Regions from separate parts of the Homo sapiens genome. Here region 1 is reported to be linked to region 2. Evidence: microRNA targets listed by miRTarBase, many of them from high-throughput screens and not tested one by one. Region 2 holds a microRNA gene; the other region holds the end of a gene's coding sequence.

Evidence for each region. The annotated mature microRNA hsa-miR-8082 reads UGAUGGAGCUGGGAAUACUCUG and lies in region 2 at 1,676-1,697, shown strand. An mRNA with a match to its seed (bases 2 to 7 or 8) in the 3' UTR can be bound and repressed. Matches are read on the target gene's strand: a 7mer-m8 pairs with bases 2 to 8, a 7mer-A1 pairs with bases 2 to 7 and ends in A, and an 8mer does both.
Region 1: the mRNA of MAGT1 is a reported target of hsa-miR-8082. Seed matches in the 3' UTR shown: 7mer-m8 at 866-872.

Annotation. Positions count from the first base shown.
Region 1 is chrX:77,826,598-77,829,597 of GRCh38, forward strand. It overlaps MAGT1 (magnesium transporter 1), which reads right to left. Exons shown (of 10, transcript NM_001367916.1): 10 at 1-2,638. The coding sequence ends at 2,623. Among named protein-coding and RNA genes, the nearest start is that of ATRX, 42 kb to the left of the region's middle.
Region 2 is chr4:113,150,617-113,153,616 of GRCh38, forward strand. It overlaps MIR8082 (microRNA 8082), which reads left to right and starts at 1,666; the gene lies at 1,666-1,746. All of the region lies in intron 1 of ANK2 (ankyrin 2), which reads left to right.

The DNA.
Region 1 (3,000 bases), not on the chromosome of region 2:
CACATTTTAGCCAGAATGCTGCCTTTCTCCTTACAGAAGAATGTGCTCTTAAAGGGAGAAAAAGCAAATACAAAAAATTGTCATTCTGTCAATGTTCATGACAAATTATCTGGAACTATACAGATTACATGGCAGTAGTATTCCCGTGGTCAATCTGTACAAATCAGGGCATCTTCATACAAGTCTCATAAGAACCACAGCATAGATTTGGCCTGAGACAAGTACAAGAATAGCAGGTAAGGAATTCAGAATCTCACAATTTACAAGTGAGTAATTAACAAAAACTGGCTGCTCCATTAAAAAGTAAAAGGTCAACCATATCCCCTCATCCATGAAATCTAGTAACGAAAAACAAAAAACCCACATAAAATATTTCTTCTGAGGCTACTATATCCATCTCTTTCTGCAAACCACATGGCAGGGTTATTAGAAGGTAAATGGCAGGTGGCAGTCATAGTATCTTTTTAATGTAATACTTGTAAGATTTCCTTAAAATTATTTTTTCACAATTACAATTATCCTATTTCCACAATAGTGGCATTTCAGGTTACTCTTCATAACTATGGGGGAGGTTATAGTTAGATATAATGATAACCATGAAAACATTCTTCACAGAAATTTGGTTAGCACATATGGTTATTTCTACTGACAGAAACCAAAAGACAAAATAAAAAAAATCCCTTCAAATTGGTACTTTGTTTCTCCACCTAAAGGAAGAGAATAAAGACTAAAATAACAGCAAAACATAGAACAGCTTTCGAGAAACGCTTAATTTCTATATACAGGCATCAGCTCAATATTTTATGATTTTTCTTTCCCATTCTAAGGGAGTCCTTTTCTTTCTTACTTTTTTTTTTTTTTTTGAGATGGAGTCTCGCTCTGTTGCCAGGCTGGAGTGCAGTGGTGTGATCTTGGCTCACTGAAACCTCCATCTCCTGAGTTCAAGTGATTCTCGTGCCTCAGCCTCCTGTGTAGCTGGGATTACAGGCTCCTGCCACCACACCCAGCTAATTTTTATATTTTTAGTAGAGACGGGGTTTCACCATGTTGGCCAGGATGGTCTCGAACTCCTGACCTCGTGATCTGCCTGCCTTGGCCTCCCAAAGTGCTGAGATTACAGGCGTAAGTCACTGCGCCTGGCCAGGGAGTCCTTTTCTAACTGAGCCTATTTTTCTCTTAGGTACAAATGGAATAAGTGACAAACTCTAATTTGTAGAAACATTTTAGGCCATGTATAAGTTACACTGATTTTAGCACTAAGCTATATTTTTATCACAGATGGGTCACCTTAAAAGAAAACTAAGGAGATGGAATGAATCTGAAATCTTTCTAAATACAAGGTAGTTAACACCATACTCAAGCAGAAATTATAATCCTGTATTTAGAGATACTTTTTTTTGAGACAGAGTCTCACTCTATCACTCAGGCTGGAGCGCAGTAGCGTGATCTCGGCTCACTGCAATCTCCGCCTCCCAGGTATTAAGCAAGTCTCGTGCCTCAGCCTCCCAAGTAGCTAGGATTATAGGCATGAGCCACCAAGCCCAGCTAATTTTCATATTTTTAGTAGAGACGGGGTTTTGCCTTGTTGGCCAGGCTGGTCTCTAACTCCTGGCCTCAAGCAATCCACCTGCCTCGGACTCCCAATAGATGTCTTTTCATGTTCACAGCTATCGAGAAGCATAGACATTGCTGGTGTGGTAGCTCACACATGTCATCCTCGCACTTTGGGAGACTGAGGCGGGCGGATCACTTGAGCCCAGGAGTTCAAGACCAGCCTGGACAACTTGGCGAAACCCTGTCTCTACTAAAAACACAAAAATTAGCCTGGCATGGCGGTGCACACCTGTAAATCCCAGCTACTTGGGAAGCTGTGACAGGAGAATCGCTTAAACCTGGGAGGCAGAGTTTGCAGTCAGCCGAGCTCACGCCACTGCACTCCAGCCTGTGTGACACAGCGAGACCGTCTCAAAAAAACAACAAAACAAAAACAATCATAGACAGCACTGTATTTCAGTAGGAAATATGCAAGGAGGAGGAGAAACAACTGTCTTGCTGAGGGCTAGACGTGTGCTCTGAAGAATGGTGTTCCATTTTCAGAAGACCACATGACACACATAATTTCTCTACTCAAAAGGAAAGATGCGTAAAGTATACACATCCACACAAAGATGAAGAAGCTAAGAATGAATTCCTAATGTAGTTATCTGTAACAGGCATATGTGGGAACACCTGGTCAGGACTTACTTTCCCCATCTTTGGATAAGGCAATATAAAATCAGATGACCAAGTTAACTAAAGTAGTTTTGAGCTTTGTTCTAACTAAAACAAAGTAGTAGTTTTACAATTTTTATAATATACTTAATTGTACTAAATTAAATGTTCCATAAAGTTCACTGGGAAGAGAAGGTTAAGAGGATAATTATTTTCAAATACCTCAGATTTTGACAGAGGATTGCTTGTTAAGGCACTACACATCTTCTTTGGTTAAATGATTAACTATTTAAATCACTTGAAAAAAAGAGGTAATACAAAATATACAAGTTGCATTCTTCTTTTCAAACACACACGATTTTCGTTTTTCAATTTCCAGTACTCCAGTGTCTATATATCTCTGGGACCTTTTTAACTCATCAGAAAGCTGAAACAAAAATATATTCCAATCTATTAGTCTCTGAAAGAAAAGTAGGATTTACTTTTAATCAATAAGCAGTATGTTGGTTTTAACAGATAAAAGAGCATTTTGGTACGTACATGATAATCTTTGGGTATCAATAACAAAAAGTGAGAAACACTGAGAGACCCGTTAGTCTTATGACAAAAGGAAATAGAATAACCTCAAGTTAAAATATCTCCTGAATAGAGACACTAATTAATAATTTTATTTTTTCATTTTTTTAGAGATGGGGTCTCACTGTGTTGCCCAGTCTGGTCTGGGACTCCCACGCTCAAGTGATCATTCTGTCTTAGCCTTCTGAGTAGCTGGGACTACAGGCACATGAC
Region 2 (3,000 bases):
GTGTTCCCATGTCCTGAGAAAGCACAGGGGATTATAGAGTACTTCAGGATGACAACTCAGCCTCAGAGGGTGGCAGAAAAGTTAAGTCCTGAAGCATTATGGGAAGTTCACACACTCAGTATTGGACTCATTAGAAAGACTGGAAAGCAATGGCTATAATACCATTTCTACTGGACATTTGTGGAACCCCCAAAATTTAGATGAGGCACATAGGCTAAGATTATCAAGAGATTCATAAGTCAAGATTTAGAATTTGAACTATATACTAGTGAAAGGCCATTGACCAAAGGCTGTTTTAGGAGAATCAATTAGGTTGTAGTCTGCATATCATAAGCTCTATTTTCTTTGAAGTTCCTACCAGCTAATAGGTACTTAGTAAATATTTGTGAAAAAAATGAATGAATTAATGACTAGGAAATCACCCAAAGTAGCAAATCTATTTATGGGAATTTTCCCACTACAGGTGACATGCCCCCAGATGAAACCAGAGGCCGCCAACATTGAAAAGGTGATGGAAGCAAAAAAACACTTCTAAAAACAGTAAAGACGTTGGTAACTAAGAAGTTTTAATTATAACCTTCTGCTCAAAAAAGGAATGTACCCTTACTGCAATTGCACACATTACTTGTTGTCGTAGTTCATTTGTGTAGCTACAAAAGAATACCCGAAGCTGGGTAATTTATAAAGAAAAGAGGTTTATTTGGATCACAGTTCTGCAAGCTGTACAAGAAGCATTGCACCAGCATCTGCTTTTGGTGAGGGCTTCAGGAAGCTTCCACTCACGGAGGAAAGGGTAGGAGAGCTGGTGTGTACAGAAACCAGGGGGAGGTGCCAGGCTCTTGTTAATGATCAGCCATCAGGGGAACTCTCATAGGAACTAATACAGCAAAAACTCACTCCTTATCACCAGAATGGCACTAAGCCATTCATGAGGGTCCACCCTCATGATCTAAACACCTTTTATTAGGCTCTGCCTCCAATATTGGGGATCACATTTCAACTTGAGGTTTGCAGAGTCAAATATGGAAACCACAGCATTGGTATAAAATATATGTATAAAACATATTTACTATAGAAAGTAGTAGACATTTTCTTGAATTGTTATTCTCTATATCAAGTTGTACATAAAATGCAATGGTTACATTTTAAAGAAATTTGGTGAAGGTAGGCTGGGCACCATGGCTCACACCTGTAATCTCAGCACTTTGGGAGGCTGAGGTGGGAGGATCACTTAAGCCCAGGAGTTCAAGACCCCCTGGGAAACATAGTGAAACCCCATCTCTACAAAAAAAAAAAAAAAAATTACTAGGTGTGCTGGCACACATCTGTAATTCCAGCTACTGGGGGGCTGAGGTGGGAGGATCACTTGAGCCTAGGAGGTGGAGATTGCAGTGAGCCAAGATTACACCACTGCACTCCAGCCTGGGTGACAGAGCAAGTCTCTGTCTCAAAAAAAAAAAAAGAAAAAAAAAAAAAAAGAAAAAAGAAGGAAAGAAAGATTACATTGTAATGTTAAGCATTATCTATTTATTTTTTTTATAATGAGGTATATCCAAACCAAGTATTTGTATTTACTTGAACTATGTAATAACTTTTGAATAATATCTCTTCTGCTATATTTAATAAGATTAGTTCCACTGTCCCTATAGTGGCTTTTTCAAGGTCGCCTGTGTGATGATGGAGCTGGGAATACTCTGGGGAGAGAGTCCTCTTTTCAGCTGTATTTTGCTTCCTTCCCACACAGACATCTGCTGTGCCTCTTACTCACTTTTAGTTGCTGTTTTGGATTTTATGCCCCTTTAATCAAAACTTATTATGCCACAAGATAGATTGACTTGTTTCCTGAATTCTTTATTTTTATTTAAGGGTTTCTCTGTGAAATCTTAGGCATATTATATCACATTTGATTGTCAAAATTTTACGTGTTTGATTTTTCAAAGCTGACCTTCATATCATATTTGTGTGGGCTTATGTGACTATAGTAAAACTTTTTTGTGCCTTTCTTTAATACTTCCTTATAAGAAGTATACGTGTAATTCCAGCAATTTGGGAGGCTGAGGCAGGAGGATCACTTGTGCCCAGGAGTTTGAGATCAACCTGGGCAACACAGGGAGATTCTGTCTCTATATTAATTTTTTTTTAAGTTTGATGGTGTGCACCTGTGGACCCAGCTATTTGGGAGGCTGAGCTGGGAGGAACTCTTCAGGCCAGGAAATTGAGGGTACAGTGAGCCTTGATTGTACCACTGCACTCCAGCCTAGGTGACAGGGCAAGATGCTGTCTCAAAAAAAAATAGTAAAAATCTTACAATGATTGACAGAAGTATAATAATTTCAATGGTGGCTTTGAGCTAATGAATTGTTTCTTAAAGCTATGTGAAAGCCAGCTGTGTAATAGTAGAGATTATAAATTGAAACTGTGTTTTTGATGAGTTTAAGTGTTGCTGACATACAGTTTATTTAAATTTCAGTCTTTTTTTTTTTCTGTACTCTTTACCTTCCTCAGTCATCAATGAGTTCCAAAAGGGGGCTTTGAAGTAAATCATAGATTCTGTTTGATACTGTAGGAATTTCCATATTCTAGTACAGCAACTCTATTAAATAAACACATTGTGTACTTAAATTGGATCTCTCACAAGTCACAAATAATATATTAGAACTAGAGCTGAAGTACCTTTATATTTGCTACTTTTGTGTCATACCTTTCTAGATTATTGGCTTTCTGAAGGATATTAGAAAGCATCTTCTAAGATACCTAGTAAAACAGAAGTACATAGAAAAATTTGTGAAAATCTTTCCTTTTTGAAAACCACTGGTTGTTACATATGAACTTTTCCCCAGAGTTACAAAAGAAAAAGAGTATTTTTCAGGAATAAAAGACATTTAACAATTTTATATTAGTAAGGTATATATTTCACAGATTTGTCTATACCATCTATAATACATAATCATTTCTTTTAAAAAATGGCTTATGATATTCAGCTTTTTATGCATTCTTACA